7 linked regions of the Homo sapiens genome follow. The protein of the gene in region 3 purifies or fractionates together with the protein of the main gene of each other region. This does not show direct contact. Each region holds a gene or a part of one and is shown on either strand. Other genes may lie near its edges.

Region 1 (3,500 bases), on a different chromosome or scaffold from region 3:
CTGTGAAAATGGGGGGATTTTGAGACTCATACTGCAGTTGAAAGAATCGCTGTCATATTATCTGCATTGGCATTGCTAGCATGGTGAAATTTCAGCCTGCCTTTACATTGTTTGAAAACTTCAATTTAGTCCTTTTCTGATTGTGTCTGAACACTGCTGCACTGCATGCCGTTGCTTCTGGGCTTGTTTCTGCCCTTACCAATGGCTGATGTCATGTGGGTGCTTTAAACTGCTCTGACACAATACAATGCGGGATCTGATTGACTGACCTCTCTGTGAGTAACAATGACTGTCTGGCAATGATGAGCAGAGGGTGGTGGGGACATTTCAGGATCTCCAGGGAGGAGATACCTTTGCAACTTTAGAAAGCTACCCAGGTGATGATGATACATCCCCTCCGGGGATGCACTCTTCCACCTCTCCTTGACTGTCATTTAAGTTGAAAACTACTCATCATCTGTCTTATATGTGATTTACCTTATTAAACCATAACTGATCAGAACCTTTAGCTTAGCCCTGATCTTTTACACAGCTGACGGGTTATATAAAATTGACTTCTGGCTGAGTCTTTCATCCCACGTAGAACTCAGTGGGTAGCAGAACGATTCCGGGTTGGGCTCAGACTGCTACATCCACATGGTGTTGTGCCTAACCCTGGGGCCCAGGTTGGACTCCCCAACACACAGAAACCTCAACATATTGGCACAGACAATAAATGAGGCTCTGAAAGTAGGACCACTATGGCAGCAGCCAGCTAACACTGTTTCGGACTCAAGCACGGAACACGAAGGGGAAGCGTGTTCTATGCCGAGGTACACACCTCTTCCTCTGAACTGTCACTCGGGTCATTGTCTAGGGAGGCGCTCAAGGAGGCCGCCTTGGGCTCCAGGTAGCAGAGGCACAGAGCCAGAGGGAAGGAGAGAGTGAGAGCGTATGGCACTGAGAAGGAGGCAGACAGCAGAAAGAAAAAGATGAAGAGGAAACAGGGCACAAGGGACGGTGAGCGGATCGGGAGGTAATGCTGCAAGCTCTGGGGCAGGAGGTTGGTTTCAGAAAGGTTGGGGAAAGAGAGGTATCCATCATCATCTAGGAGGGAGGGGAATGACTCAGGGAGCTGCAAGGAGAAGGAGAACAGGGTGGTCCCCTTGCCAGTTTGCTGTCTGTAGCTAAAAGCCACATCTTGATCCCCTAGGTAAGGCCTCCCTGGGCCATCAGAGTCCAAGGCGGGCTCTCCAGGCAGGTGCTCAGCTCTGGACGGCTCATAACCTGGCAGTTTGCAGTCATTCTCCTTACACCTCCTACGGAGCTCTGTGGGAGATGTGGGGGCACAATGGGTGGATGGGGGTGACAAGGGACATGAGTCAGTGCCAAGCCCAGGTGACTGATGTGAAAGAGACAGAAAGAGACAGAAAGCAGCAAACAGAGGTGCAAAAGGACAAAAAGAAAACTGCAATTAGTTAATTTTCTTATGGGTATCAATATAAAATTGTAAAACAAAAATTTTAGCACTAGGGTTGCTCATGAATGTTAAAGTATTCAAGCTGCATGCCACTGTTGCCACGAACGGCTACATTTCTCCCATGAGACTATCACATACAGGTGGAATTCTTTAAAAACTCAGAACAGAAGGTATTTGTGGGCAATCCCAAAGTCTACACATTTCACATGGTCAAAAAATTTCCCTTTAGACTAACAACTCTAGAAAGTTTCAGGTTTTGGGGAGCAAACATAAGTAAATCTGATAACTTAACATGAAGACTTTCAATAGCCTTCTCCTGATTTCCAGGTAGCAGAGCTGTTACTATAGTTCAGCTAGATTAAAAATGAAGATGAAATCCAATCCAGATTTTGATTAAAAAAAAAAAACCAATCTCTAGCATTAGTCCTTTCCCTGGTTATTCAATTACATCCAAAACAAGGAGTTTACATTCCAAATCAAGAAGTTTCTGGCCCCACTCCTATCTGATAAGTAGTTACAATCAGGGATTCGACAGTTAGCATTTCTGAATATCTCACTCCTCAGAAAAGAACTGAAGTTCCCTTGAAAGCTCTATTTTGGCTCCTTTATTTAGGATATTAGTGGAACTTCAACTGAAGTGATTTCAACAAGCTAACTAGCAAAAACAATGTGTTTTCTTGTAACATGCTTTGCCAGTATTTACTTTCTATTATTTATGATGCATAATAACAGAAAGATATAATTTCCCAGCCTTCTGATTTTTCTTAGCAGATAAAGGGCATATTTAGATCTTTGGTTTGAGTCCTTAATATAATGATAAAAGCAGGGTTTTCCACAGGTGCTCCCCTGGTGAGCTCAAGCTTTTATGGGGCAAGTGAATCTGCTTCTCCTCCTCTCTGGGTCCTGGAAGTCTCCACGACCAGGGCCAGTTTCCTCTGCAGGTGGCGGAGGGGTTGCTGGACAAGAAGGGGAGGAAGGAAAGCACGCAAGCCCCAAGCAGGACCTGGGCAGGTACAGCAGCTGCTGCAGGCCGGGAAATCCAAGCCTGAAAGTAATTAGACTTCTGCTGATGTCTGTGTCACTGCGTGTGTGTATGTGTGTGTTTTGCCCAGTGGCCTGACAGCATGGAAATTACCCAGCCTGCCTTGTGTGGTTATGCAATCCTGACTTGGGGAGAAGTGGTAAATATAGCGACAGAAAGAAAATGCACAAATAAAGTTACATCTGAGGCATGAGGGAAAGAAAATGCACAAATAAAATCGTAGCTCTTCGGCCTTTGAAGGGTCTCTTTTTACGATGAGAGAAGTATGTCTTTTCCCACACATTTGCATTTGACATTAAAGACGGCACTTTAAACAGGAACCTGCACAAATCTCATTCAACTAAGAATAATGTAGCTGCTACACATTAACTTCTGCATGAAGACAACTGTCCTCCAGCATGGAGGTGAGGCAGCCCCATGACCCAGGGGATCCCAGCCTGGGAAACGTGCCTCCTTCCCAGGCAACCTAGGGGACCAGCCTTTCAAGAACTATTTTCAGTAATACACTTTCATTTTGGTTGAAAAGTAAGTACCCTCTGCGTTACTTTTTGAAGAAGGAGAAGGATAAAATTAAGGTTTAACCTTCCATGCTGATTATTAAAGTCATTTCTAGAAGACAGCTTTGCACTGGGGAAACCAAGCCAGCCCACACCTATATGAGCACCAGATTTCAGCTACAGACTTCCTGAAGACATTCTGCCCAGAGTGCTGGCTTCTCAGAGACTCAGGCTATGAGGCTGGTAGTGTCCTTTGTCTTTTCCCACATCACAAATGGCACCAAGTGAGGACAGCTTAGTGCTACGTTTTATATAAACAAACTGGTGGTCTTTTAAAAGCAAATAAAGTGAAAATGTCCGGCCTTATCTTGGGAGCAAAACTAAAAATCACTTACATTGATGTGTCACTTCTTCAATACTTATACATCCATGGGAATCTTATGTTGGCATGGCGAGTTTATAAAATGTTAGAATAACTAAGAAGAAGAACCACATATTTGTT
Region 2 (3,500 bases), on a different chromosome or scaffold from region 3:
AGATGTTTTAAAACATCAATAACAATGATTTACTTTAAAAGGTAAGCCATCACATTTTTCAGTTAATACATTAACACGCAAACATTATTTGGAATAGGCATTAACCCCAGTGATCAATGTTAAGTACTACTGTTAGTAATTAGTGACTAAAATATTCTTCTAATCTTGCACATGTTTTTAAATAGTGGAAGATATTAGATGACTAGGGTATTAGGTTCTAAAATATCTTATTCTGCTTCTGTGAACTATCATTTTTATTGAATGTATACTGGAATAAAAAGTTAATTGTTCCTTAAAAAAATTCCTTGCATGATTTAACATTTGAATGTAGATATATGACATATGGGCCATGTTATAAATAGTTTCGATACCTAAAATGCCAAAATACCTTTCAAAAATATTTACTTTTAAATACATGCTTCAAAATACAGCTTTTACATTGGTATTGGAAATCTCATAAAGAAGATGACCACAAACAATTTTAAAATTTTTCCATATACTTCCATTTAAGGTTCAAATTTAAATATTATCACTTAAAGCATGTCATATAATCTCCAACAATTATTATAGTATTTTATAATATTATAATGGAATTTCAGAGCCAGGATAAACCTTGGACAGATGTGACCCATCCCCTTCCCCATTATGTACATGAAACGACTAAGTCCAAAGAGAAAAATAACACCCCGATGTACTGTAGTCCTTTGATAATGGAATATAACCATAATCCATGTTTCCCTACTTCCAATTCAATGTGCTATCCATCATATCACATTGAAACCTCTTCTTTAAGATGTATTATTAAGATGTCTTATTATAAGATTAGGTTGAGCCATCATTTTGATTGTCTTTGTAATAAGAATCTACGTTAATAAAGTTTTCAAGATCTTCCTTATATTTTAAAATTAACAAAGTCTAATTTTCCTTTTATGTATAAAGCCCTGTGAATAATAAGTTCAGTACCTACCTGTCAAAGGAATGAAACTGCATAGGAAGAATAGCTTGTGTTTCTCTCTTCAATGCTGGATCTGGGTATGGGATAGGTTCAGGGCCACATTCTGCTATTTCAACTGGAGCAGCCACAAGACTTTTCAGTATTTCCTTCACATTGATGCCTTTGGTTTGACTAATGCTAGATATGGATGTTGCAGGCTTCAACGTTTCACTAGGATTTTCAGTTAAGCTCTCTTGTGATTTCTTCACTTCGGATGACAAAGTGGATAAGAGTTCACTCATGGCATCAGGGCCTGTACTTGTTTCTAATTCTGCCCCATTCAGGATGCTAGCCACTTGCTCCTCTCCAATTCCTGAATCTGTATGGGGAATTGAACTTTCTACCTGAATATCTTCACCAGGAGTTGGTGTTTCTTTTTCTTTTATGGTGTCTGGAAATGCAGCAGGTGTTTCTGTAATGAAAGAAACTAGGTTAGAAAAAAGCTTTGAAAGTAAAAATCTTGTATTATTAATCAAATGTTTTCATATATTCAAATAAAGAAAACAAAACCTGTAGAAACAAAAAATTGCTAAACGGATGTGCATAGTAGTAACACAACTCAGTTGAAAGATATCATCCAGCCAGACATGATGGCTCATGCCTGTAACCCCAGCACTTTGGGAGGCTGAGGCAGATGGATCACCTGAGGTCAGGAGTTCGAGACCAGCCTGGCCAACATGGCGAAACCCCGTCTCTACTAAAAACACAAAAATAAGCTAGGCACGGTGGGATACGTCTAATCCCAGCTACTCGGGAGGCTGAGGCAGGAGAATTGCTTGAACCTGGAAGGTGGATGTTGCAGTGAACTGAAATCATGCCACTGCACTCCTGCCTGGGCAACAAGAGCAAAACTCCATCTCAAAAAAACAAAAAAAAAAACAAAAAGATATCATCCAATACACCTACTATTTTGTTCAGGGAGCATCAAAATAATCCTCTTGCTTCTTAAATCATCTGGCATTTCAAAACTGATGCCTTCAAAAGCATCAGGAAATAGTTCCTATAACAATTTCCTAAAGCAGCTTATAAATAATAATTATATGATGTTCCCCTCTTATCCTTTGATTGTTAGCTGCCAATCATAGAAGAGAAATTCTTATATTTCTCTATTAGTTTCCTTAAAAATATAAAGTCATTTTTATACTTTCTTTGGTACTTCAATAACTAATAATATCTGAAATATTCAAGATAATCGAAGATCATTTTAAAATTACAATACGTAAAATTCTGACACACTTGCAAAATGCAAAGCAAGTCAAATGATTAGTTCAAAAGAATAAATACATTAATAATATAATAATGTTCCTCAAGGACAAGGCCTATATTTTGGAATACTCATGCTCATTCTTTGTAAATAAATATAAATTTCAATTTGTGAAAATTAAATCAGAAACATATATGTGCATATAACTACACAGATAATGAAATACACATATAATATTAACAACTAAAAGTAATGAAATAAAAAAATCTTTAAAATGTTAAATTTCTATCAAATTTCATCATACAAAGGTTAATGTAATAAAGTTCTCCATATAATAAAATGTTACCAAATTCTAAACGATAACCTTGAAAAGTGTATCTCATCTAAGTATAATGGAGATAACAGTCCTTAACTTAATCGTTTTGAATAAAGTAAGATACCATTAAGCTACTATATGTAAATTCACTGCAGTTCTCACTTTAAAGTAGAAGCTCAGTAAATGTTAGCTATTTGTATTGCTTAAACTTGCATTTAAGTTTGAAAGTTTCATAATCTTTGAAAATGAGAAGCACAGACTAAATTATTTCAAAGATCTCCTAAAAATTGAAAATCAGTAAATTCTATATAACTTCTCTTAGATTTTGTTATTATTTGCTTGTTTCTTTGAATTCAAAGGTTGTTAGGACAAGAAACCAGGAAACTGCCCAACAGGAAAATAGGCTACCTTGATGTCAGCAAGACATCTCACAAAATCTTTTGTGAAATCTCTAGTAGAAGTGTTGTTCTGATGATAGAATTGTTGGGTGTGATCACAGCTTCTGAAAGTTTTGTACACACATACTAAAAAATTAAAAACAATATGAAGGGATTTTGTCAGTAACAGACTCAATTCTTGGGTGTTGTCTATTAGACAGTTTTTTTAATTGCTTGAATTTAAACTAATGGCATACCATTCAGATTTCCTGAGGGTGTGAATTTATAATACTTTTTCTAGGATAAGCATCAGAAAAATGTTGCCAGGTTTTGAAATAAAATCTCCCATTTTTTTCTCCCCCTTTTCTTTTGAGTCAAATTATATCAAATCTATACATTAAATTAGGAATAAATAACATCCTCATATTATTCAATATTCCTAATATCAAATACTAATTTAAACTGACTTAAAATATGCATTTATCACAATGCAATGTTATATCATAGTTTTCCTCATATTTGTTGAATAGATTTAAATTTTGTTTGTTTATTTGTTAGTTTGGTCAAAGATGATAGACTGAAAGAATAGATTAATCTGTGGAATATGAT
Region 3 (3,500 bases):
TCCTTGGCCTCCCAAAGTGCTGGCATTACAGCTGTGAGCCAGCATCCAGCCATCCATTGTTTTTTCAAACAATAACACCACTTTCGTAAGGTGTTACATGTTTGCACTTGCCATGTGTTATTTCCTTATATTTCTAAAAGCACTTTGTAGATGATTTTCTTTTCTTTTTTTTCCCCCAGATAAAAATATTGAGAGCCAGAAAGGATAAGTGACTTCCCTCAGATTTCACAGCGGGTCATAGAGATGCTTGGTTGAAGTTAAGGTCTTTGTTATTCTCAAAGAAGATCTTTCACAGACCCCTGGCCTTGAGATTAGGAAGTGCCATTCCTGTCCCTGACTTCCAATGCTCACAGATGTGGCCTTTCAGTGTCTTCTCTGTATGACTCTTCCTCAAGGAAGTGCCAACTTTGAGAGGGACATCCCTGGGGATGAGTCTGATTTTAGTGTCCCCAGGGAGGTGAACCCTGGAGTCGGGCAGGCTGAAGGGGTGGAGCTTGGAGAGTTGGGGCCTGGCAGACACACCTGGGAAGACCGCCAGCAGGCAGGTGAGCACGAAGAGCAGCATTGCTGGTGGGTCCCGAGCGCCGCACCACTCAGGCCGACTTCTCCTGTGCAATGCTGAAAAACAATAATCACAAGGAGATGAAGCGCCCCTTGTCTTCCAAGACTAGTTGACCTTAGAGTTTCTGTGACATCTATTTGGCTTTGTATCTCCAGCAACTGACATAAATCCTGTTGAATGAATCAGTGCCTCCACTTTTTCCATAACAATTCAAAGTCTTATCATCCTTCAACACTTGTATATCCTTAATAGCTAGAAGTAGCTTTTGTCTTCTCAACTAAGCTGCAAGCTCCTTTGGGATAGAGATATTGTGTCATTTGCTCTGTTTCCCTGCCCATGAGACACAGTCCCAGGCACACCGTAAGATCTCAGGAATGGCTTGCTGGGTGATTGGTTCCTACCAATACGTGGCCCCCATCTCTCTGTTTCAGCTGCCCTCCCTACATTCCTGGGAGGTGAAGCGGGCTGACATATTTCACAGTGTGTTCAGATGAGGAAACTGAGACCCACAGAGGAGGTGTCATGATTATTAAGGCTGTAAATGTAATGATGATGGTCCTAACCCCATTGATTGCTCCCTTATTCTGTCTCAGGCACTGTGTTGAATAATTTATGTGTACTATCTCATACAGACTTGATATCAGCCCTGTGAGGTTAGTATCCTTATCCACATTCACATGGGAGGAAATGAAGGCTTCAAGGTTAAGTACTTTCCTCAAGGGCACATGGGGTTAAATGTGTGGGGGTACACAGAATGGGGGTCGGGGAAGATTTGGGCCCACCTTTGTCTGACTGCAAAGTCCATGTGCTTAACCTCTCCACTACTGTATCGCACCCCAAATACAAGAGCATGCTTTTACCTTATGCTTATTTGTGTTATTTGTAGAGACCCTGTTGCTTATGAAAGCACTACCATTTACATTATTTCATTTGAGCTTTATATGTTCCCTTGAAATAAGACAGACGGGTATAATCACAACCATTTTATGGATAAAACATTGAGGTCTTGAGATGCTGAATGATAGGCTTACGTTTTCCCAGCAACTTGGTTATGGAATTGGGGTTAAAAGCTTAGGTGTTAGGGTCTTTGTAATCCTGCCTGGTAAGGCCTGGCAGACAAAGATGAAGAATCGAAGATGAGACCACTCAGACGGAGCAGCCTGTGTGGACTTTGTCTCCACCGTGGACACAGCCCAGGGCTGAGGAGAGTTGAGGGTCCCAGGGGTCTGCCTGACAGCAGCTGTCATCAAGACCCCAACTACAGCCTAGAGGAGGAGACAGAAGTCTCCACTTTCCCAGACTTTGACAGACTTTAAACTTTGGAGTTGTCTTGACAAAGAGAGTGTTAAATGATCGTAAGTTTGGGCAGTAATGAGTGCCCATAAAGATAAGGACGCTGTAAGCAGGAGGAAGCTGGGCGTTATCTCCCAGACCTCCCTCACCACCCTGGCCCCTGCTCCTGCTCCCAGACTCCCTTCACCAGCTTGAGCCAAAGGCAATAGAGTTGTTTATCTTGGTTATTTCTTTGTTGCAGGGGAATTTCCCAGCAAGGAACCTTTTATTTCCTTGTGAATATAAAGGTATTTTGTTTCTGCAGTTCTTTGGAAGAATAAAGGGAGGGAGTGGGAACAAATATGGGTGTCAGATGGCAACGTTGAGGCTCTCTTGAGTCCGGTTAATTGCCCCAGACCTTTCTTACCAGGTCAATGATTAATGCCTGGAGTGGGGCCTTGGCCAAATACCAGTCAGCTCCAACATGGAAGCAATCAGGGGACACTAGCTGGGATGTCATCACCTGCGTGGGCACTGCAAGCTGCCATGGGAGATGCTCCCAGGTGGGAGCAGCTTTCAGGAGGCCAGGAAGTCTCAGAAACAGTTGGGATGGGCTGGCTGCAAAGTCCTGGGAGATCTACCATTTTCTACTTGTGCTGGCACAGGGTGGGTGCAGTCACAGGTGGGAGGACAAAATGCTGCCTGCTTTTAAGAACCCACACCAGCAGCAGCTGTCCTTGCTTCTTGTTCCTGTCCTCACCTCTAGATAAGCAAGCTGCCTCATATTTGCGTGAGACAGGAGTGGTCTTCCCACAAGCTGAGCTGGGGGATGCAGCCCTCCTCTGGACTTGGCCTGGGTTGCAGAGAGTCAGATGCCAGCTTCTCCAAGGTGAAGACCACCCTGACCTCTGTCCCAGACTTCTCATTTTGTGACATGTTTGGGTGGCTGTGCATGTTTGTGTAGAGAGGGGACATGTGTGTGCACCCATTACCCTCTGCATGGTCTCAAGCCAGGGATGAGAGCATCAGGCATGCACAGGCAGGTCGGGCAGATGGCAACATCAGCGGGATGCACACAGTCCAGTCCTAGATGGGATGATTGGCAGGAGAGGATACCCCTGCTTTCAGGAACAGGAGCTCTTCTTTGCCCAAAGCTAAAACTTGAAGCACAATTTCTCTAGTAGCATTTGAAAGGACCTCGAGCTTTCAGAATCATTACAGACCCCTTCCTCTCAAAACCAGAGACTTTCTTCCAAACCTGGGGATTCAAATCTCGGGAGACCTCCCCAGCCCAGGGTGGCTGGGGCTGGATTTAAAGGATTTGCTTAAGGAAGGAAGAAAAAGAACATAATGTTGGGCACCTGCTACGTGCCAAATGCTTTGCTAGGTTCTTTTCTTGTAAGACTTCATCCATCAGCACAACAACCCAAGAGATAGATGTTGTTATCCTCATGACACAGGTTGGAAATCTAAGGGTTATAGGGATTCTCGACCCCAAGACCCACAGCAGAATCCTAATTTGAGGTCACTACCCCATTATCACTCTTTAAATGAGCAAAGGGACCTGCTTTATTGGGTTTTATATATATGATATTATATCATGCATGAGGGCACGTTTTCTGGTCCTTAAACTAGCAGTTGTTTTTTCACTGCTGAGGCTAGGATG
Region 4 (3,500 bases), on a different chromosome or scaffold from region 3:
GGAAAATATACAGCAGTAGGAATCAAAATGAAAAAGCTAGAACTCATCATTAATACTGACCTGATATGTATTTGTACACTGTGAAATGTTAAAATAAATGGAATGTGTAGTTTTCAGTTCCTGGAGTAAGAATCGGCTGGGCATGGTGGCTCACACCTGTAATCTTAGCACTTTGGGAGGCTGAGGTGGGAGGATTGCTTGAGCCTAAGAGTTTGAGACCAGCCTGGACAACGTAGTGGGACCTCATCTTCACAAAAAAGTAAAAAATCAGCTGACTGTGGTGGCATATGCCTATAGTTCCAGCTACTTGGGAGGCTGAAGTGGGAGGATTGCTTAACCCCAGAGGTCGAGGTTGCAGTGAGCCGACATCATGCCACCAGATTCCAGCCTGGGTGACAGAGCAAGACCCTGTTCTCCCCCACCCCCCGAAAAATAAAAATAAAAAAAAGAATCTACTAATGTGCTTTGAGGGCAATGCTAGCTAGGGTCACTCATATCTCTGGATATCTAGCAGGGCTTTTGAAAAGGGCAAGGGCAAGATCAAATAGGAGAAAGATAGTTTCACAGAGCTGCACTGAGATTCTCCAGATGTTATGCTATTAATTGTTAGTTGGGGTTTTTTTTAGTTGCATTAATTTTGTCAGCCAGTTATTGTTGAAATGTCATCTATGTCTATACATTAGGTTAATGCAAACTATATTATAGATAATTCATAACACTTGAACCCATTGATTTATTGTAACTTCACCAAAAGGGAGACAGTAGGAAGTACACTTCCCACCTGTGAACTCTTCCCCCTCCCCCACCCCAATCCAACTTGAATATATTCAAGGCTCTGAGTCTAACTAGCAATCTATATGAAATAGAAATGTAATATGAATGTTAAAAGACACCGTGGGGTTGCATGCAGTTGAACCAAGAATGTGAGAAATAAGACAGTAAAATGACCAGATCCTTGGCCAGAAAATGGGGAAGGGGCATTACAGATTAAAAGAGTCTTAAGATACAAAAGCCAATCAAATGCAGTTTTGGACCTTATTTGGATCCTGATTCAAAGAAATCAGCTGTATAAAGATATTTATGAGATAGAGAAATTTGAATACCAAGTGGATATTAAATGCTTTTAAGGAGTTCTTGTTTTTTGTGTAGTTGTGTTACAAAAGGGTACTTTATCTCATAGAAACAGACATGTATGTTTTTAAAAGTGAAATGATACCTAATTTGGGATTTACTTTAAAAACAATAAAGGGTGGGCCTGGTAGAGAAGTGGGCAAGTAGCATAGATAAAGCCAGAGTGGCTATGTATTAATAATTGCTATATATTGGAGGCAGCTTCATGCAAGTTTTTTATACTATTCCATAATAAAGCTTTTATAGCATGTCATCTCAATCCTGCTCATTTGAGAATAATTTTAATCCACAAGTAGAAAAGTAGTTAATGTTTTGTTTCTCAGAGCCTTTCTTTCATAGAAGCAAAATCTGTGAAAATGCAAAGTGGTTTGATGATATTTTTTTCAGGGTTTGTTGAAGTCATTTTAGCTTAACTTGCCTGCTTGAAGGTGGGTTTGGTATCTTGAAGCCAAACGTGCAGGATTTAGTGGATGTATTGCTGATTCTTGTTATTTGTGGCAGTTATGTTCTCTAAAGTCACCTTGATTACTGAATTAGTGAACACTGAATAATTTCCCCTAGGGGAAATACAGGGTTAGGTTCCTGCGAGCCTTTGCTTATAACATTTTCCTCAGTGGATTAATACATAATTTTGTTTTTTGTGTATTTCTCATTTAATATCTGTGGTTGATTCATTAACAGTGAACTCACAATCCTGGCCAACAAGACTATAACACGTGCCTGAGTAAAGCTTATCCCACACACATTTTCTCCAGACAGTACTTCATGGCCTTCTTGCACATGGGAACCCCAGACAGCACCTAAGGACAATGCTTGATGGGCCATTTCACACCATGAAATGACACACACACACACACAAATGCAAAAAAAGTGACACTAAACAGACCTTGAAAAGGATGCTTGTTATAGTATGAGCATTGAAACGAGAAGGGAGAGCATCACCTTGTTCAGCCTTAGCATACTGGAGTCTCAAATTTTTCACCTCTCTGCACTTGTTCACAAAGGACCATGAAAGCGCCTTAAGTATTGATTTTGGGGTTACAAATAAATTTCAGCAAGTAGGCAGATTTGTAAATATGGACTACATGAGCAATGAGGATTGATTGTGTATGTTAGATACTAATAAGTTATTTTTCTCCCAGTTTTTGGCTCGAAGCAATTCTGAATATATATGTTAAATATTAGAAGTTGAAGAGTAGTTATATATTTTGTGAATGGATTGAAGTTGCAGAGTAATGTGAAAAGTTCAAATGTTTTATACAAATCTAAAGTTGACTTATTTGAGCATGTTATGCTTAATAATATAGTCAACATATATTATAAAACATATATAAAGCACAATATTTTGAATTCTTAAATTGGTATAGATGATCTATATCTGAGTAAACTTTAAGAAAATGTTTATGTAATGCACACAAAAGATAACTTGATTTTTGTCCGAAATGTAGACAAACATTTTTTTGTATATGTAGCATTTTTTTGGATGCGGAGACTCGAAGAGCGATGGGAGAACAAGCTGTAGCTCTTGCCAGAGCAGTAAAATATTCCTCTGCTGGGACCGTGGAGTTCCTTGTGGACTCTAAGAAGAATTTTTATTTCTTGGAAATGAATACAAGACTCCAGGTAACAACAACTGTTATTTATTCCTCTCCATGCCTCTGTACTTTACCCTTCCTTCTCCACCCTTTTTTGTTTTATAAATGTTAAAAAATTAACTCCATAAAGTGTTAAATAAAGATTTAGTTTTTATGCTTGTGCTAAGACATCTGTTAGGAATGACGGATAGTATCCCTCTAAAGTTCAATGTCTAGACCTCTGCTTTGTCACTGTTAATACTTTATGTTGGAAATACCACTTTGTTTTTTTCTTGAACCTTTCTAGATGAACTGTATTTGTCAGTGTGTATGTGCTGTTAAGAAAAATTACTCTAGATATTACAAATAGGAAGTGATACAGTGATTGCAAAATCTTTGGAAGGATGGAGGAAGGAAGGGTACCCAGAGTGAACTTCGGTGGTGACTCCCACTGCTGTACCACTCAGCCAGGCTCCCAGAGGAACCGGCACCTCTGCCACAGTGAGGACGTTGAGAATCAAGTGGCTGCCCTTGGAACTGTTGGCTTTGGGGGACATAACTTCCTTAGTTCTAACCAAATCTCAGGAAGCGACTGGCGTTGTAACCGGTGGCTTTATTTCCTTCCTTCTTCCCTTTTTTCTTTCATTTAAATTGTGAACTATACAGAAACATACATAGAACACAGGTGAATAATTGAATGTATTATTATAAAGCAAAAATCAATGTAAACATCAACTGGGCCTAGAAGTATTTACAAAACAGCCAGCTCTTTTTACACTAGCCTCATTTTCTTCT
Region 5 (4,278 bases), on a different chromosome or scaffold from region 3:
GCTTTTCATTAGAGTCTGCTGGGATTGTAACCCCCAATATCACCCGAAGCTTTCTGGAACAATATAGACGTTTATGAGAGGACTTAACAGAGATGGCTTCTCCATCATTATGAGCCTCTATTATCCCTCCCCACAGACCTTTTTCTGTACCCTCGTATGTCTCCCAAAGGCTTTTCTAATCCCATTTAATTGGGAGATGGTCTCAGACAGGGGTGAGAGTCTGTGCCCAACCTGAGAACCCAAAGAATGGAGTGCCTTTGAAGGCTTATCACTCACGGTAAATTGCAGTGTGCAGCTGTGATCACCCAAAGCGGGTGGATCAGGACTCCAGCGCAGGGCAAGTAGTCAGATTTCAAATAGACCAAGTAAGGGGGAGTGGAGCTGACTGTGTAATCTGGATTAAAGGCCAAAGCAACTGGAAAGAGAAGCATAGACAAGAAATTCCAAGATTTCTCAGTCATCACCAGAAAAACTTCAGGAAAGTCATTTAATAGGCTCCAAGTTCCCCTATCCTTTTCTCTAGCAACTTTATCTGTAAAATGACTTACTTTGTTCTAAAACACGAAGAAAAGACAAATGGTAGAAACATATCTCTTTTGAAAAATAAAAAGTGTTTGGCTTTTTCACTGTCAATAAAATCTTTCAAATTAAATGTTCAACTTTCTTAAATACCTTCCACAATTTAGTGGGTTGTATGCTAAATCAACGAATTTTTTTCACTATTTTTACCAATTTTAGAATGCTTCAATAAGTCTTAAGGCATTCTGATTTAGAATGCTTTAATAAGTCTTATCTCTTTTTCCCAACAACAACTCAAGACAGAATTATATAAGTATCATGACAAGAACAGACCAAATGCTAAGAGTCTGAGGAGGGGAAAAATAATGTATTGTTTTACCAAATATACATTGAGCACCTAGTATATGTCAAGCTCTGTTTTAGGGGCTTGGGCTATATAGTGAACAAAGTAGATATTCCTGCTCTCATATATTACAATTAATGAAGATATTCAGTAATAATAAACACAACACACAAATAAACTATGTAGGATGTTAAATGGTGATTAGTGCTATGGAAAAACACACAAGTAAACTATATATGATGTTAAATGGTGATTAGTGCTATGGAAATAAAAGTAGGACAGGGAAAGAGAGAAAGGTATTACCAATTGTGTGTTGGGGGAGAAGGAGGGGTTTCAGGCAGTATTTGTTTGTTGTTTGTTTGAGACAGGATCTCACTCTGTTGCTCAGATTGGAGTGCAGTGGCAAGATCAGGCTCACTGCAGCCTCAACCTCCTGGGCTCAAGCAAACCCTCCTGAGTAGCTTGGACTACAGGTGTGTGCCACCATATCTGGTTAATTTTTAAATTTTTTAATTTTTTTAATAGAGATGGAGTCTTGATATGTTGCCCAGGCTGGTCTCAAACTCTTGGGCTCAAGTGATCCTCCCACCTCAGCTTCCCAAAGTGCTGGGATTATAGGCATGAGCCATTACTCCAGTCTCAGGTAATATTAAACCAGTCATCAGAGTATAACTTCATGGGCAATGTTGAACAATAACATGAAAACGGGGGAAGTTGCTAGTCAAATATCTGGGTGAAGGGACTCCAGGCAGAGGCAACAGCTGCAGCATGGGTCCTGAGGCTTGTGTCAGTTACATCACAGAGGCCATGGCTGCTGACCCAGAGTGAATGAAGGGGAGCAGAGGAGGAAAGGGGCTCAAAGAAGAATGGAGGGTTTTGTAGACCATCGTAAGAACTCGGCCTTGTTTCCTGAGTACAAATGGAACCACTCAAGGATTTGTGCAAAGGAGTGATGACAGTCTCCTCATGGAGAACCTGTAGAGTGTAGAAGTATAGAGGTAGAGGGGTCTGTTAGGAGAATAATTTGCTAATCCAGGCAAGAGGTGGTGGCTTAGATCATTGTGAGCAGTGGAGATGGTGAGATGTGATTGAATTTAGGATACATTTAGAAGACAAAGCCAACATTTTTCTAAGAGATCAAACGTGGGGTATGAGAGAAAGAGAGGATTTATGAATAAGCCTGGGTTTATGCCTGAGTAACTGGAACTGTGCCAGGAGATATCTGATTCTTCAATGTTCTGCTGTGCCCTCTGTGGTGCAGAACATCAATCCTGTTGCAGACAGGTCCAGAGTCAGGTCTTAGGAGTGGGTCTGGTATTTGAGTGACAATGTCCACGCCTCCCACAAAAGCACACAAGCAAACCTCCTGCGGCAGGCAGGCAGGCACTATCACAGGAGGAAACTTGATGGGAACGGGGCAGTGGAGAGGGACAGAGGACCATCCTACACTTGAATTCTGGAATGATGCCTCTCGCTGTTACCCGTCTTTCATGCTTTTCCCAGGATTTCTCTTTGGTGGGTAAAGAGACAAATATGCACACACTCACCAGTCAGATTCAAGAGAGCCCAGAGGAGGATAAACTTCATGATGATGTTGAAAGCCCAGTTTAGCTCCAGTCTCTGGAAAACTGGGAAGAGAGAGAGAAAACAACTAAATAAAACAAAGCAAGATTGTAGAATTGGAAAAATATATCATCTGAATTATTTTAGTAGCAGGATTCAGTTTTAGAAATGGTGTCCATTATTCAGAGGAGAGTGTAGCGTCATCTGTCAGAGAGACAAGAATAGAGTCAAGTGATTGGTCCCCAATACAGTTGAAAATGGTTCTGGAACTCAGAGTTCTGCCCTCTGTCTTCAGGGAAGAAAGTACCAAAGCTAAGTTGAAGTTCATGATATCTCTACAGACGCCTCCTGTCTGGTCTCCTTTTTGCCAGCCTTGGTAGGCAGGTTCCCCTCTAAACTATGTGTGGGCTGCTGCCCCTCCTGTCTGTGTGATGCTATCTCCCACTGTGTGATGCTATTTTTCTCCAGTGGACATAATGTAGCCCTCTGGAGCTGACATTGCTTCCTCTGCCTGACATTAAACTCCTCTTTGAAATACATTAACCTTTTCCTTCATGTCACTGTTTATCCATTTATTCTGTGAACCAACCTGCTAATTATTTATCTTATGTATCTAACTTGTGCTAGGATCTGTGCTTGCTGTTGGGGTTGCCTCAACTGAAGGATTTCTTTCCTACCTTCCAAGAGCTTACAGACTAGTGGGAATGATACTTAAGTTGATGGTTATGAAACAAAGTATTCAGGGCTAAAAATTGAGATATGCCACAGACTAGATAAAAATATTTGCAAAACACATATCTGCTAAATAATTCATGTATAAGGAAATAGTAAAATTCGACATTAAGAAAACAAACAACACAACCTAAAAGTGGGCCAAAGATCCTTACCAAATGTTTTAGTCTGCTTGGACTGCCATAAAAAAAACCACAGTCTAGGTGTCTTACACGACAGACACTTACTTTCTTATAGTTCTGAAGGTCAGAAGTCCATGATCAAGGTGTTGTCAAATTCAGTTTCTGGTGAGGCCTCTCTCCCTGGCTTGTGGATGATCACCTTCTTACTGCTTCCTCACATGGCCTTTCCTCTGTGCACACAGAGATAAAGAGGGAAAGAAAGCTCTCTGGTGACTCTTTTTATAAGGACATAAATCCTATTGGATCAGGGCTCCACCCTTCTAACCTAATTTAGCCTTAATTGCTTCCTTTTAGGCCCTATCTTCAATACAGTTGCATTGAGGTTTAGGCCTTCAAACAGATATATTTTGCAGTGATGGGGAAGATAACACCAGAGAATATATACAGATGGTAAATGGCATATGAAAAAATTCTTAACATAATATGTCATTAGGGAATTACAACAACAATGGGATACTACTACATACCCTGTGGAAGGGCTAAAATTCAAACACTGACAACAACAGATGCTAGTGAGGATATGAAGTATCAAGAACTGATGCTGGTGAGAATTTATTGCTGATGAGAGTGCAAAATGGTACAGTCACTTTAGAAAATAGCTTGGAAGTTTCTTATTAAGCTCAACATAACCTCACTATATGATACAGCAATTACACTTCTTGATACACCAAAAGATTTGAAAACTTGTGTTCACAAAAATCCTACACATAAATGTTTATAGCAGCTTTGTTCAAAGTTGCCAAATCTTGGAAGCAACCAACATGTCCTTCAATAGATAAATGGATAAACAAAGTGTGATTCATCCATATAATGAAATGTTATTCAGAGATTTTATGATTTAAAAAACTTAACTCTCAAGCCATGAAAAGACATGGAGTAAACCTATATGCATATTGCTAAGTGAAAAGAGCTAGTCTGAAAAGATTATATACCATATAA
Region 6 (3,500 bases), on a different chromosome or scaffold from region 3:
AGAATTAATACATAGGGTCTTTTGGCTTAATAAAAGGACTTCTAGTATCTTAAAAGTTTGAGAACCGACGTCCAGTGAAGTAGACTTGGAATCCTCATTGTTTTCACGCAGCACTAGGTACAAGAGATTCCACAGTATGGATCCTACAACGTATGCATTGACAGAAGAGTTCCTGCTCTCTCAAAGGGCTTTGCTCTCCAAAGAAAAAAGAACATGTAACAGTGCCACACCAAACTTGCCATTTAAAAATGCCCTTCAGAAATCACAAGCTGAGATTTCTGGTGCTTGTTTTGCATTTACTTTGGCAGCCTAGGAAGATGAAGGAAAACAGATCAGCAATAGAAGGAATGAAGGAAGGAGTCTTTGTGGGGTAAGAGATGGGAAATGAATAGGAGGTACAGCAGTGCTGTGCACAGCACCAAACTGGGTATCCAAAGACATATGCCCCGGCCCCAGATCCCCAAGAAACTGGAGCTTCCCTGAGGGTTTCGTGAAGTAACGTACCCAAGAGCCCTTGTAAAGGATAAAGCCCTCTGCAGATAACCAGTCTCCTAACTCAGTGATTATCTGAGATATGAGAGCTTTATGAACTAAAATGTGTTGTGCAAATGTCAAGATTTAATATTAGAGGCAGAAAACAGATGTTGTGTTTTTATTCTATAATTAATGGGATGTGCTATGCCATAAGTATACCTTGCAATTTGTTGCCTTTGCTATTCTAATACCTTTCTTCAATGTCTGTCCTTGGAAGAGTTCCAGAGTAAGACAAAAACTATAGAGAGAATACAATAGAGAGAATATGAAACCAGGCCAGGATTAAGTAAGAGACTTGGTTCCAGAAGACACTAAAACAGTATCTGCAAAGATACAACCTAGTGTCTTGAGTGTTCCTAGGATGCATAGGATTGGAGAGGAGCTATCAAGGTAAGACCTCTGTACAATCCTCAGGCCAGCTGTCTCTGCCCCTTATCTGAAGGTGTCACGTGGCAGTGAAGACCCAAGCTCAATTCTCTTACAAGAACAGAAAACCACAGGCAATGAAACAATATCTAGTTCTCTACCTTAAAACGCTACTAGCTAGGGTGATCTTTCTGGACCCTAAATGACAAAGTCTGTAGTCATATACCATCAACCTAAAGGAGAGACAGTGATCTGCCTATGTACTGGCAAATAATCTTCAGAAGAAAATAGTGATTAGAACTGAAATTATTATATTTAGCAGATATTTATATCCCTTCCAGTCCCCATTCTTATTTTATACCTTAATGCAGGCCTATAGTTTGGTAATTTTAATACAACTACTTGCTGGGGCTAACCAGGGCCTGTCAACAGCTCCTCTCAGTGTTCTAGAATAGAAATTGGCTAATAAAAACTGTTAACCGCTCTTTTCCAATGCTGCTGCTGTTCTTTAAAACGAAAGATTAGCCCAGTACAATCCTTCTAATGGACATATTCTTTTATTCTTGATTGTCCTATATACAAGCGCTTACCTAAGCTTTCCACATAATGGTTAGTGGCCTTGGCACGCTGGGTTTGAATCCCTGACCTCGAATCCCTGACCTCGCTTATTAGCCTTGTAACACAATTTCCCTAAGCCTCAGTCTTATCCTCAAAAATGTGGCTAATACTACTTATCTCATGTGGTTGTTTTAAGGAGTAAATGAAATAACCTATAGAAACCCTTCAGTATAGAGTCTGGCATAGGGTAGGTGCTCAATATATTTTATTCATTTTCCTTCAAGCTATTTGAAATCGTTTTGGGAAGAAGGCAAGATTTAAATGATAAACAAGCAAACAGTTCTCTATTGCATCATAATTACAAAAAAACAGATGGCATAAGGAAAATCTTGGTCGGTCTATTGTTATATCAAAGAAACCATGCTAAACCAAAAAAAAAATCCTTGCTTTGGAGGCACTTATGAAGTAGGATTAAATGAAAGTGTTGGAATACAGATGAGAAGGAACCTTAGACACAGGTTCTCCCACCGAAGACCATATCAGCAATGCTTCTAATTACCAATATATCAAAGTCCTCTCCACTCCCTGTAACTGGCAGGAGACAATCTGAGGCAAACTCAGTGTACCAAGAAGTCCTGTGAAAACTTAACCTAGACAGCACAATGAATGAAAGGGAATGAATTCCCTGGCTTTTGGCCTTCTAACACGTGACCAGTATGCTTCAAAACATGTTTAAAACTGTTTCTGTAAAATATTTTTGCCACCTAAGTTTCCCCCCCGCCCCTTCATAAAAGTGATATTTGAGTAGTGAGGGGAGAAATGGCTCAAAATTTGTTACAAGAGGTTCCAAAGAAAGACAATAAGGTATAGAGAAAGGGAAGACAGGAAGAAAGAGAAAGAGGTCAAGTATGTAGTGGATAGTACAGGGAAGTCACAAGTATCTTCTGTCTGGAAATGCTGCAGATTTTGTGGTTAGCCTCAAGATATTAGGTGGGAATAAACATGTCATTGAGAGTAAATGTAAACACAAAAATGAAAAATAAAAATTGTAACAATTCACTTTATTCTAAACTGTTTTTGATGGTTATATATGGCAGGCCTAGGAGGCAATGTTAGACAGTAGATAGTTGCCTTCGGCGGAGGGTGACCTGTGTTCTGTCCACTGCTCTACATTGTAAAGAGGTGTCATCTTGGACAAGTCACGGCAGCTCATGTTGAGTCTTGGGATGATTCTTTATCTAAAGGTAGAGAACTGAACCAGCTTTTTGATGGTGATGAGGAGGGGTTTTGAGAGGAACAAGGATATACAGCATCTCTATTGAATATTTGGGCCATAATGTAACAGCCTAGGATGCTGAGATTTACTCAAGAGCTGAGGACGGCTAGGGGCCAAACACAGATTTTTAAGTTTTGAGATAGGGTTTACTCTGTTGCTAAGACTGGAGTGCAGTGGCAAGATCACAACTCACTGCAATCTCTGCCTCCCAGGTTCAGGCCATCCTCCCACCCCAGCCTCCTAAGTATCTGGGACTACAGCACATGCCACCATGCCCAGCTAATGTTTAAATTTTTTATAGAGAAGGGGTCTTGCCATGTTGCCCAGGCTGGTCTCAAATACCTGGGCTCAAGTGATCTGCCAGCTTTGGCCTCCCAAAGTGTTAGGATTACAGGTGTGAGCCACTGCACCCAGCCTCAAATACAGATTTTTAAGAGGCCAGATTTATACACCTGGCCATCATGGTCATGTTGGTTAACCTCCATCATGAAGCTAGGCTTTTTAACCTTCAGGAAAACTACCCCAGAGCAGTTAATGGCCTAAATAAAGGAGGTCAAGCTATATGTCTCAGTTTAAAACAGAACATGACAAATTAACCTGAAGCAGGAAAAGGAGGGGACATCAAACCTGACACCCATCCTGATAAGAGTAACTGCTCTCATTTGACAGCCAGAGTTAAACTAGATGTATGCAATCTCTACAACAAACATAGTCAATGCCAATCAGATAGTCAGAGGAACCATCATTTAATGGGAAATAACGCAAT
Region 7 (3,951 bases), on a different chromosome or scaffold from region 3:
TGATTATAACATTATATATTCAAATTATAAAGCACTTAGATAATAAAGTATAAAGAAAATAAAAATCTTCATAATCCTATCACTCCAAGGTAGTTACTATTAATGCTTAAAGTATATTCATATGGTTTTTTCTATGTATTTGTGTGTGCATGAATGGAAATATATTAACTGTTTTCAACCCAGTTTTAATAAACTTTGCTATAGAAAGTTATCTATATATATCTAATTGTGTTTATATATTCCACATTGTAAGTCACTTTTTTGCTTAAGATCATAAACATTTTTCCTTGTCATCATTTTTAATAGCCATAAAATATTCCATTATATGTTAGAACCATAATTAATAAATCCACCACTATTAGAAATTTAGGTTGTAACCAATTTTTAGTTATTATAAATAAAACAATGCACCCGTCTTATGACAACCTTTTTTTTGAAGTGGTACCATTTTGCTGAAAAAACCAAACATCTCACATGGCGTCTGAGTTTCCAGAGGATGTTGCGATCTCTAGAGTGCCTGATTGCGCCTCTTCTGCTTTAGCTCACAAGCCTACCTATTGCATCAGTGGCAGACAGGGATTTGAATTAGAACCAGAATTATCAGCTACCCAGAACAACCACCCTTGTCATTTTCCTGAGACACCATGAAGATTTAGTCACGTTTGGAAGTTTAAAAAAAAAAACTAAGATCATCATGAGCTTTGACAGTCAAGGCCATTTAATTCAAGATAATTTTTAATATAAAAATGTTTATAAGGAAAACATATATTATTTAGGGCTTAGTTTCTTAGAATGAAGAGCCTGAGGAAATGGAGAAAATAGCTTTCAGGTGGGTAACAAATTGTCAAATTTTTTTCTTGATTTTCAAACCCTGAATTTTTTATATATGAGATGGTGTTTGATTAGAAACAGTTAACATATCAATAGGAGCATGACATGAAACAACTGGTTCTTCTCATTAGAATATCAGATTCAAGGAGAGGGTATAGCTCAGAGGTAGAGCACTGGACTGCAGATCAAGAATATCAGCTTCAGTTCAGCTGCCTTCATTTGAAAAGGGTCAAGAGAAAGGAAATTATTAAAATGTAAGAGAAGGCATCCAAAGCCCTACAAGCTACCATTTAAAGAAAGTGGTTGTTGAACCTGACTCAGAGTAGGCGCTCAATATTTGCTGAATAGTAGAGGTAAGAAAAAATTGACAATTAGCTGTGTGATTTTCAGGGGGATGGGACTCACTTAAGCTAGTGCCTTCATTTTAATTTGTGAAGTCTACCACCTTTTCCAACTATTCACAGATAATGTAAGAAAAACACTGAAGACAAATACTTTTATAATAATGATCAGATAATTGTAACAAGCTGTAGAGGGGACTTGTAGAAACTATATCCATAGAAACCTCCAAAAATAGTATAAACAAGGACAGTATAGGGATCCCATAGAAATAAAAGCTCTTTCAAAAAACAGAAGGTAGACCAAATTCGATATTCAGGTCTTCCCTAGCTCTAGAAGGAAATGGAGTAGATTTTTGCATGTATACAATAAATTGCTGGTTTCTCTAAAATAGATGCAATGGTAGATTGAAGCTTGCCACCTGCTGCTCAAACGAAAATTATATATGATATAAAATCAGGCAATAACAGTCTAGCAACACTAGTGTGCCTACCATGTGCCAAGCATGACCCAGGTAGACAATACCAACTTGGCCACTGTCAGAGACAGAACACTCAATGGGATGGATGGTAGGACAAGATAATGTGATAATTCTCTTGGTCTTATGTTTCTTCTTGCCATTTCTGGAAAAACCCAAGCCACAGAAACTACCCCATGGTGTTGATTCCTCCCAATAGTGACATAGAATCTCACTATTTCTTTGGTACGCCCCGTCACTCTTTAGTGTTCAGCATTGTTTACTATTCAGCCCATTCCATTCAACTTTTAAATATATATTATTTGTCAGGCACTTTACAAAGCACAAGAAATACCTAAAGCACTTTTCTCGATGTGCTGCTGACTGATCCCTAGATTCTGTAAATGAGCAGGTCTTCCCTCACTTCTTCTCATACTCCCTCATGCAAAATACCTTACCGTGTAAAAATGATGGTCACGTTTCCCTTCACATGGAATTTGAGCATGGCTATGTAGTTTTTTTAAACATAGGGCATGGGAAAAAATAAAATCTAGTACAGGACAGGGACAAGTAATAACAACATAAATATGCTGACCCCTTGATTCTAACAACCAAACTATAAGATGAAAATCCTGTTTTGTTTAAAATCTCTATCCATACCATTGAATTTTGCTCCCAATGTAGCAAATAAACCCCTACTTTTGATATTAGGAGAGTTACCTAAGTATGATAGCATTTCTTTCAAAACAAAGTTTAAGTGAATACGGAAAAGGTGAAACAGGGATAGTGAGCATTTCTCAGAAGCAGCAAATTCATGCTGGAAATTGGCCTCTTACCTTCAAAGAACTGCTGCAGGGCCTCATTTTCGCCTACCACATCCATGGTACTGTGATCCTAGTACTATTTCCTCATAAAACAACGGTTATCAGACCTCAGGAAATAAGTACTGTCCTTTTGATTCGAAGCCTACGAATGCTCTTGAAAAATCTTCATTTTCTTTTTATTGGAGTGAAGCATATCTTCAGCCATCAAATTGTGCCCAGAAAGATGGTTGAGTTTTCAAATGTGATTATAAAACTGGAAGGATATACAACCATACATTTAAAAAAAATTCATGAAGAGGGAAGAGGTAGCAAATTCATCTGTCTTAATATAAGGAACTGTTTCTACTCTGCTTTTCGTCTTTAAGGACCTTTGTCCTTAGTGACACATGCAATTACATAAATGGGCAATAAATACATAGTCTTATCTCATATTTGTCCTTTTACACCAATATATTTATATCTCCACCTTTATCAACTAGATCCACTTAGCTACCACCAATAAAACATACTTATTTTTTTAACCTAGAAAAAAGGGATAAATCAATATAATTACTTTTATAGATACCTATCATCACAGGTAATTTTAAAAGGCTTGTGATAATGAAAAGTTAGAATTTGTTAAGTATTTCCAAACTTACAGCAAAAACTTAAATTCCTTAATACATACCTGTTCCATTTCCTCTAGAGCTTATTTGCTTCCAAAGCATAAACCATAAAGTATGAGAAGTCTCTCTAACAAGCAACGAAAACTGCATTACCAATTTAATAATTCTTACAGTTGAGTCACTAGTAACTTGATTCACTCCTAAATATAAAACCATACCCGAATAAATGTTTTGTTTTCACTGCTTAGCTATAATTCATTTAACAATAGCCTAAGAAAATACAATTAGGAAATTAAATTATCCTTTCGCCCCTTCCTTTTCTTTTTTCCCAACTATTTGGAAAAAAAATAGTATCATAAAATATCCATATACTCTTCATCTACACTTACCAATTATTGACACTCTCTCATATATATATATATATACACATACATATATATACATATATATATACATATATACATATATATATGAGACAGAGTGGTAGCAGTGGATATGGATATGTGTGTGGATATGGATATGTGTGTGGAAGGATATGGATATATATATATCCATATATAGTTTGTTTATATATATATCCATATAGTTTTTATATATATAGTTTATTTCTAATTTTTATGGATACACAATAGTTGTACATATTTATGGGGTACATATATTTTGATACAAACATACAATGTGTAATGATCAAATCAGGGTAATTGGGGTATCCATCACCTCAAACATTTATCATTTATCATTTATGTTGGGAACATTCCAAATCCACTCCTTTATTGTGAAATATAAATTATTGTTAACTGTATTTACCCTATTGTGCTACCAAACACTAGATCATATTCCTTCTATATATTTTTGCACCCATTACCCAACCCCTCTTTATCCCCTCACCCCCTAA

Evidence for each region.
Region 1: the proteins of PIGR (region 3) and EPB41L3 purify together in Homo sapiens (affinity purification with mass spectrometry, with the first as the bait; one study listed by BioGRID). This does not show direct contact.
Region 2: the proteins of PIGR (region 3) and NBEA purify together in Homo sapiens (affinity purification with mass spectrometry, with the first as the bait; one study listed by BioGRID). This does not show direct contact.
Region 4: the proteins of PIGR (region 3) and PCCA purify together in Homo sapiens (affinity purification with mass spectrometry, with the first as the bait; one study listed by BioGRID). This does not show direct contact.
Region 5: the proteins of PIGR (region 3) and PRSS58 purify together in Homo sapiens (affinity purification with mass spectrometry, with the first as the bait; one study listed by BioGRID). This does not show direct contact.
Region 6: the proteins of PIGR (region 3) and ZNF202 purify together in Homo sapiens (affinity purification with mass spectrometry, with the first as the bait; one study listed by BioGRID). This does not show direct contact.
Region 7: the proteins of PIGR (region 3) and MYRFL purify together in Homo sapiens (affinity purification with mass spectrometry, with the first as the bait; one study listed by BioGRID). This does not show direct contact.

What each region holds. Positions count from the first base shown.
Region 1 is NC_000018.10:5,414,998-5,418,497, forward strand, and holds part of EPB41L3 (band 4.1-like protein 3), read right to left. Parts: intron 1,382-3,500; coding exon 821-1,381; intron 1-820. UniProt on the Homo sapiens protein: Tumor suppressor that inhibits cell proliferation and promotes apoptosis. Modulates the activity of protein arginine N-methyltransferases, including PRMT3 and PRMT5.
Region 2 is NC_000013.11:35,193,770-35,197,269, reverse strand, and holds part of NBEA (neurobeachin), read right to left. Parts: intron 1,407-3,500; coding exon 968-1,406; intron 1-967. UniProt on the Homo sapiens protein: Binds to type II regulatory subunits of protein kinase A and anchors/targets them to the membrane. May anchor the kinase to cytoskeletal and/or organelle-associated proteins.
Region 3 is NC_000001.11:206,939,967-206,943,466, forward strand, and holds part of PIGR (polymeric immunoglobulin receptor precursor), read right to left. Parts: intron 619-3,500; 5' UTR 566-618; coding exon 523-565; intron 1-522.
Region 4 is NC_000013.11:100,270,593-100,274,092, forward strand, and holds part of PCCA (propionyl-CoA carboxylase alpha chain, mitochondrial isoform a precursor), read left to right. Parts: intron 1-2,603; coding exon 2,604-2,754; intron 2,755-3,500. UniProt on the Homo sapiens protein: This is one of the 2 subunits of the biotin-dependent propionyl-CoA carboxylase (PCC), a mitochondrial enzyme involved in the catabolism of odd chain fatty acids, branched-chain amino acids isoleucine, threonine, methionine, and valine and other metabolites.
Region 5 is NC_000007.14:142,255,259-142,259,536, forward strand, and holds the start of PRSS58 (serine protease 58 precursor), read right to left. Parts: upstream 2,801-4,278; 5' UTR 2,733-2,800; intron 2,491-2,732; 5' UTR 2,450-2,490; coding exon 2,410-2,449; intron 416-2,409; coding exon 277-415; intron 54-276; coding exon 1-53.
Region 6 is NC_000011.10:123,735,161-123,738,660, forward strand, and holds part of ZNF202 (zinc finger protein 202), read right to left. Parts: intron 1-3,500. UniProt on the Homo sapiens protein: Transcriptional repressor that binds to elements found predominantly in genes that participate in lipid metabolism.
Region 7 is NC_000012.12:69,824,076-69,828,026, reverse strand, and holds the start of MYRFL (myelin regulatory factor-like protein), read right to left. Parts: upstream 2,801-3,951; 5' UTR 2,510-2,800; coding exon 2,464-2,509; intron 1-2,463.